Linked DNA regions of Homo sapiens. The protein of the gene in region 2 interacts with the protein of the main gene of each other region in a pairwise test. Each region holds a gene or a part of one and is shown on either strand. Other genes may lie near its edges.

What was found.
Region 1: the proteins of IFT57 (region 2) and EXOC5 interact in binary tests that used the Homo sapiens proteins (3 or more experiments, as listed by UniProt).

What each region holds. Positions count from the first base shown.
Region 1 is NC_000014.9:57,258,906-57,262,405, reverse strand, and holds part of EXOC5 (exocyst complex component 5), read left to right. Parts: intron 1-3,500. UniProt on the Homo sapiens protein: Component of the exocyst complex involved in the docking of exocytic vesicles with fusion sites on the plasma membrane.
Region 2 is NC_000003.12:108,166,925-108,170,424, reverse strand, and holds part of IFT57 (intraflagellar transport protein 57 homolog), read left to right. Parts: intron 1-2,560; coding exon 2,561-2,632; intron 2,633-3,439; coding exon 3,440-3,500. UniProt on the Homo sapiens protein: Required for the formation of cilia. Plays an indirect role in sonic hedgehog signaling, cilia being required for all activity of the hedgehog pathway.

The DNA of each region.
Region 1 (3,500 bases), on a different chromosome or scaffold from region 2:
GGTGGTAATTTAGCCAGGAGGTGGAAGACATCTCTCAGCTCTGCCTCTTACTAGTTGTGTGATCTTGGCAAGTTACCCAACCTCTTTGTACCTCAGTTTTCTCATCTGTAAAATGGGGGAAATAATGGTATCTACTTCAGAAGGTTTTTTTGATGACTAAATTGAGTTGAGAAATTTAAATTGCTTAGAAGCATACTATTAAGAGAGTAGTATCCATTTTAAAAAATTAGGTGTTGGCCACTTTCAATTTAAGTGGATTGAGATGAGAACTAGATTAGAGATCTATCAGGGAGGGAACACTTCAGCCTTCTCAGTCTCAGTTGACTCAGAGTAAATGATCCAAGAAGTAGGAGATTATAGTAGGAGAGGATTACAAAAAGGGGCTGTGGAAGGTTGTATTTTTCAGGATGGTCACAAGATCTGCCATCCTACATTGTGATGTTTATGCCCCTCCCATAGGAAGTAGGTTCTGTGTTCACTTCTTGAATCTGTACAGGCCTATGACTATAGAAGTGATGCTATGTAGTGATTTGCAAGGTTAGGTAACCTCTTGGACTCTAGCAGCCATGCCAAGAGAAAGCCCATGCAGCCCTTTGAAAGAACCAAGGCCCTTTGCCCTTGGCTCTGGCTGAACTCCCAGCTAACAGTAAACACCAACTTGCCATCTTGGAAGACTATCTTCTAGCCAAGTTGAGCAGCCCCAGCTTATTTCATGTGGAGCAGAGACCAGGTTTCCCTGCTGAGCCCTCCTCCAATCAGATTTGTGAACAGTATGATTATTGTTATTTTAGGCCACTAACTATTTGAGTGGTTGTTAGGCAGCAATAGATAACTGTAACAGAGGCCGATCAATTTCTTACCTGCACCAAGATCTAATAGCCTTCTGCTGGTCTTAGTGGAGACAGTGGTAGAGGTAGAGGTTGATGCTTAAGAGTAATAGAGTTCCATTTAAGTATTTTATGCTTTGGAGTTCTCCAGTCCAAGCAACTTGGAAGTGAACTTTTGGAATAAGCAAGTCATTAAATTGAGGACAGTATTATAGACTGCACATGTGTGTAATTAATCTAAAATACTGAGTCCCTGGTGTTCCCAGGAAATTAGATAGTTGAGGTGTGTGTGTGCCCACATGTGTGAGAGAGATTTGAAAGAGTGATTGATTGCCTTGTTCTCTTAAAAGTGGATTGCAATTTCATGTAACACCGTGCAAATAAACATAACCTACAAATTAAACGAAAGTTCTAGTTGAGTGATAAATAATTTAAAAGTTTGATTGTCAATAGTTTATGTATATATATATTTTTAAAACTTAGCAAACTTTTCTGATGTTACTTCCTTGAAGCCGAAATTTGAAAATGAGAAAATATAGTTATTTACATATCTTTGCTTATTCAAGTTATAATAAACGAAAGAAGCAAATGATTCTTTCACTTGTTTAATTTCATTTCCAAGGTGTCTATTAAATGCCTGTAAGAATATTTAACGTGTGTATTTGGCAATACACTTAATTTGATTTGAAATGCTAATGGCAGATTTTATTAAATATTTAAAGTAATTTCACAGTCTATAAATGTTAAAGGCACTATAATAGAGTGGGAAAAATATCTGGGTTAGAATCCTGGTTTAGTACCTTGATAAGACTTAAATTTCATTTCCTCAGTTTCTTTATTTATAAAAATGAGATGAAAGAGCTGGGCTGTGATGATATTTAAAGAACATTCTTGCATTACGAATTTTAAATCTAATTATATGATTCTGCTGAGACTAGTGTAACAGGAATTGTAACATTTGTTACCTTTCCCTTTTGGACATAGACATAATATATATAACTTTACTGTTCGAAATGAGATATATTCTATCCTGGAAAAATATTTTGCTTAAGAGAATCTAAAATATTTTGTAAGATTCTAAACTACCATCGTTTAAATAGTCTTCAAAACAATTTTGATAACATGATTAATTGGCTAATTTCATAGTTTAAAGGGCTTCAAGATTGAATGTTAACATTGACTAATTTTAAAAAGTAAAATTATTTATTTTGTAGTGTTTGTGCAAGTAGTTTTCAAAATACTTTTTCAAAGTTTGCTTTAGTTATATTAGTGTCTTAATGAGCTTTATTTTTCTACCTTTTCATACTACCTTTGAAATCCATTTTGCTAGCCTGAGACAAAATATTTTGTGGTGCTTTTTTAAAAACTCAGTATTCAATAAATATAACTTATTTATTAATATACAGAAAACACGTAAAGAATCTCACTGAAAAATCAAAGAAAATGGGGTTAGAAAGTAGAGGCCGAATATTATAAAATTCTTTTAGTTCTTTGTAGTGCCAGAATTGTATTAGGCTCATATTTGGTTTCTGTTAGAATCTTTGATTGATAGTACCATGTAATGCCTGTTCTTTATTTCTGGGTTGTGGGGTGGTGGTCCTGCCTTTTTGGTTTTGGATGTATGGATCAAGAGCATGACTTTCAAGACCCTCTGCAGGGGTTTCAGCCATGGCCCCAACTAGCTAGTGTTTTGGTATGCTCGGCATTGTTCTGTTGACTACAGCTGGAAAGCAAGAGAAATGTATGACACAGCATCCCCTTGCTTTCAATTTAAGTATGGAGAAAAGAGTGAAACTTATGAAAATGATTCTAAATCAATAAATGACAAAATGACAATTAGTAATGTTCTGTGTTGGGATTTGAATTTTTAAGCTTCATAGGGGTTTAAGAGTGGAGAAATTAATGGAGACCATGTAAGGAAGGAACCCTTCAAAGAAGAAACGGGAATAGAGCCAGGCTTTGAATAATGGTATAGCAGTGTTTGAATTGTTGGAGGAGAAAGGCCATACTTGGTGGGGTGAGTTACCTGGCCACAGGTTAGGAAGCAGGAGTAGCATGGGCTTGAAAAGAAGACTGGAATAGTCTGACGGAAGTGTGGCTGTTTGTTTTGAGGTACAGAGAAATTTGGGTAGGTGGTACAAGATAAGAACCCTAAAGGGTAGATATAAGAGTGTGAACTTGGCTGCATGTGGTGACTCACACCTGTAATCCGAGCATTTCCAGAGACTGAGGCGGGCAGATCACTTGAGGCCAGCAGTTAGAGACTAGCCTGGCCAACATGGCAAAACCCCATCTCTACTAAAAATATAAAAATTAGCCGGATGTGATGGCGCACACTTGTAATACCAGCTACTCAGGAGGCTGAGACATGAGACTTGCTTGAACCCAGGAGGCGGAGCCGAGATTGTACCACTGCATTGCAGACTGGGTGACAGAGTGAGACTGTATCTCAAAAAAAAAAAAAGAAAAGTGTGTGTGAATTTGATAGTGTAGTAGGAATTATATAGGGAAGTTTCTCACTAAAAGGAGGTAGTGTTTTAATGATTTGTTAGACAGTGGTATCCATAATAAATTTAAGGAAAATACATGATAGGCAGTACTTTTGAACCGATGGGTTAGTTGGTTTAACAAGATACAGAAATATCTCTCTGAAACGATCTGAGACTTACTTTA
Region 2 (3,500 bases):
AGATATTTTATTTTATTTGTAGCAATTGTGAATAGAAGTTCACTCATGATTTAGCTCTCTACTTGTCTATTATTGGCATATAGGAATGCTTGTGATTTTTGCACATTGATTTTGTATCCTGAGACTTTGCTGAAGTTGCTTATTAGCTTAAGGAGTTTTGGGGCCGAGACATAGGGGTTTTCTAAATATGCAATTATGTTATCTGCAAACAGAGACAATTTGACTTCCTCAGTTCCTATTTGAATACCCTTTATTTCTTTCTATTGCCTGATTGCCCAGGCTAGAACTTCCAATACTATGTTGAATAGGAGTGGGGTGAGAGGGCATGCTTGTCTTTTTCCGGTTTTCAAAGGGAATGCTTCCAGCTTTTGCCCATTCAGTATGATATTGGCTATGGGTTTGTCATAAATAGCTCTTATTATTTTGAGATATGTTCCATCAATACCAAGTTTATTGAGAGTTTTTAGCATGAAGGAGTGTTGAACTTTATCAAAGGCCTTTTCTGCATCTATTGGGATAATCATGTGGTTTTTGTCACTGGTTCTGTTTATGTGATGGATTACATTTATTGATTTGTGTATGTTGAACCAGCCTGCATCCTGGGGCTGAAACTGACTTGATCATGGTGGATAAGCTTTTTGATGTGCTGCTGGATTTGGTTTGCCAGTATTTTATTGAGGGTTTTCACATTGATGTTCATCAGGGATAAAACTGGCTAGCCATATACAGAAAACAGAAACTGTACCCCTTCCTTACACCTTATACAAAAATTAGCTCAAGATGGACTAAAGACTTAAATGTAAAACCTAAAACCATAAAAACCTGAGAGGAAAACCTAGGCAATACCATTCAGGATATAGGCATGGGCAAAGACTTCATGACTAAAACACCAAAAGCAATGGCAACAAAAGTCAAAATTGACAAATGGCCTCTAATTAAACTAAAGAGCTTCTGCACAGCAAAAGAAACTATCATCCAAGTGAACAGGCAGCCTAGAGAATGGGAGAAAATTTTTGCAATCTATCCATCTGACAAAAGTCTAGTATCCAGAATCTAAAGGAACTTAGACAAATTACAAGAAAAAAAAAACCCATCAAAAAGTGGGCAAAGGATATGAACAGACGCTTCTCAGAAGAAGACATTTATGTGGCCAAAAAACATATGATAAAAAGCTCATCACCACTGTTAATTAGAACAATGCAAATCAAAACCACAATGAGATACCATCTCATGCCAGTTAGAGTGGTGATCAAAAAAGTCTGGAAACAACAGCTGCTAGTGAGGATGTGGAGAATAGGAACACTTTTACACTGTTGGTGGGAGTGTAAATTAGTTCAACCATTGTGGAAGACAATGTGGCAATTCTTCAAGGATCTAGAATCAGAAATACCATTTGACCCAGCAATCCCATTACTGGGTGTATACCCAAAGGTTTTTAAGTCATTTTACTGTAAAGACACATGCACACATATGTTTATTGCAGCACTATTTACAATAGCAAAGACTTGGAACCAATCCAAATCCCCATCAATGATAGACTGAATAAAGAAAGTATGGCACATATACACTGTGGAATACCATGCAGCCATAAAAAAGAATGAATTCATGTCCTTTGCAGGGACATGGATGAAGCTGGGAGCCATCATTCTCAGCAGACTAACACAGGAACAGAAAACCAAACACCGCATGTTCTCACTCATAAGTGGGAGTTGAACAATGAGAACACATGAACACAGGGAAGGGAACATCACACACCCAGGCCTGTTGGGGGATGGGGGATGGGGAGGGAGAGCAGTAGGACAAATACCTAATGCATGCAGGGCTTAAAACCTAGATGACAGGTTGATGGGTGCAGTAAACCACCAGGGCACATAGTATACCTATGTAACAAACTTGCACATTCTGCACATGTATCCCAGAACTTAAAGTAAAATAAAATAAAAAATTATTACTTTGTAGTAAACTGAAATATTTTTAATATATTTTGTAGGAAATTAAAATGTTGATGTAGATTTCAAATTTGCACACTAATTCAGATCAGTCTAGTAGTAATAGATGATATTTTAAAATACATGAACTCCAGTAATCATTATAAACTTCCTTTATTAAGAAAGGGACTCAAAAGGCTTCATGAAGATGAGGGCCCCATTTTCATTTCCAAGGGACAAACTAATCTTTGATATATGATATTTGAGTTCAGAATTGCTTTTGGCAAACATAATTGTTACTGCTTAAACAAGTAGTTCTTTTCTAGTAATTAGAATTTTTTTTTCATTTTAATGGGTAGTCATAAATATTAACCACCAGCAGTGCAGGAATAATTTAAATTGTCAGACATCACTCTGTGAACACGTGAAATAATTTACATTTATTTAGAACCTTTTATCCTAAAGTGCTCTACACATATTTCTTTATAATCTGATTGCAAGCTATAAATAGGGCTATCCCACCTGAAATAGGGCAGGAACCAAAGTAATTAAAGGTTACAACTTCACAAGAAGTAGGGAAAGATGGAAATGTAGTATTTTTTACATTATTTCTATGTGCTCTATGCCTGTAGGATTGGAGAATCCATGTTGACCAAATGCACCAGCACAGAAGTGGAATTGAATCTGCTCTAAAGGAGACCAAGGTATATGAATTACTTTACGTGAATCAATGTACATTTACTCATCTGTGGAACACCTGTTATAAGAGAACATGAAAGAATAAAAAGACACAATTTTTGCCTTTAAGGAACTTACTAATTGAATGTACCGTGTTACATTTCAACTGACCTTACATTTAAACCAACTAAAGAAAGCTAACTTACATATTAATAAAAGCTATATATATGTATATATATAAGATATATATGTATAATATATAGATAATACATATATTAGAGAGAAACATTTCATCATCCTTTCCTCTCTGAATCTTAAAGGAGGAAAGAACACCAGACCAGCAAGGTCTAGAACTTACAGCCTCCGCAGGCTTGCTGTCCTGCCAGAAACAAGGACTTTGGAGAATGTCACAAAGAAGCAAAGCTAGACTGAAAAGTTATGTGTCCCAGGCTAGAGCTATAGGCTTAGGGATCTATTTCCAACTGGAATATTTCAGTCACCTTTGAATCGTGCTATAGGAAACTCACGTTATTCCCTTACTTTGATTGTGAATGTTATATAATGCTAATTATAGTCACATAAATTTTATGGTATGTATAATGACAAATGAATTGACTAACACTGCCAGGTGCATTTTTATTCTAAAACTCTTCTAAGTGTGGTTAAAATATTTCTCATCACAGATATTTTGTGCTATTGAAAATTTCAAGCTGTCTTCTTTTGCACATGTAGTTGATTATTTGTAGAATGGATTGAGATGTAACCCATTTTTAATATTTTTGAAAAAATATGTTTGTGAGTTCTTCTATCTGCAAATTCCATGGAATTTCTAGGGATTTTTGGACAAACTCCATAATGAAATTACTAGGACTTTGGAAAAGATCAGCAGCCGAG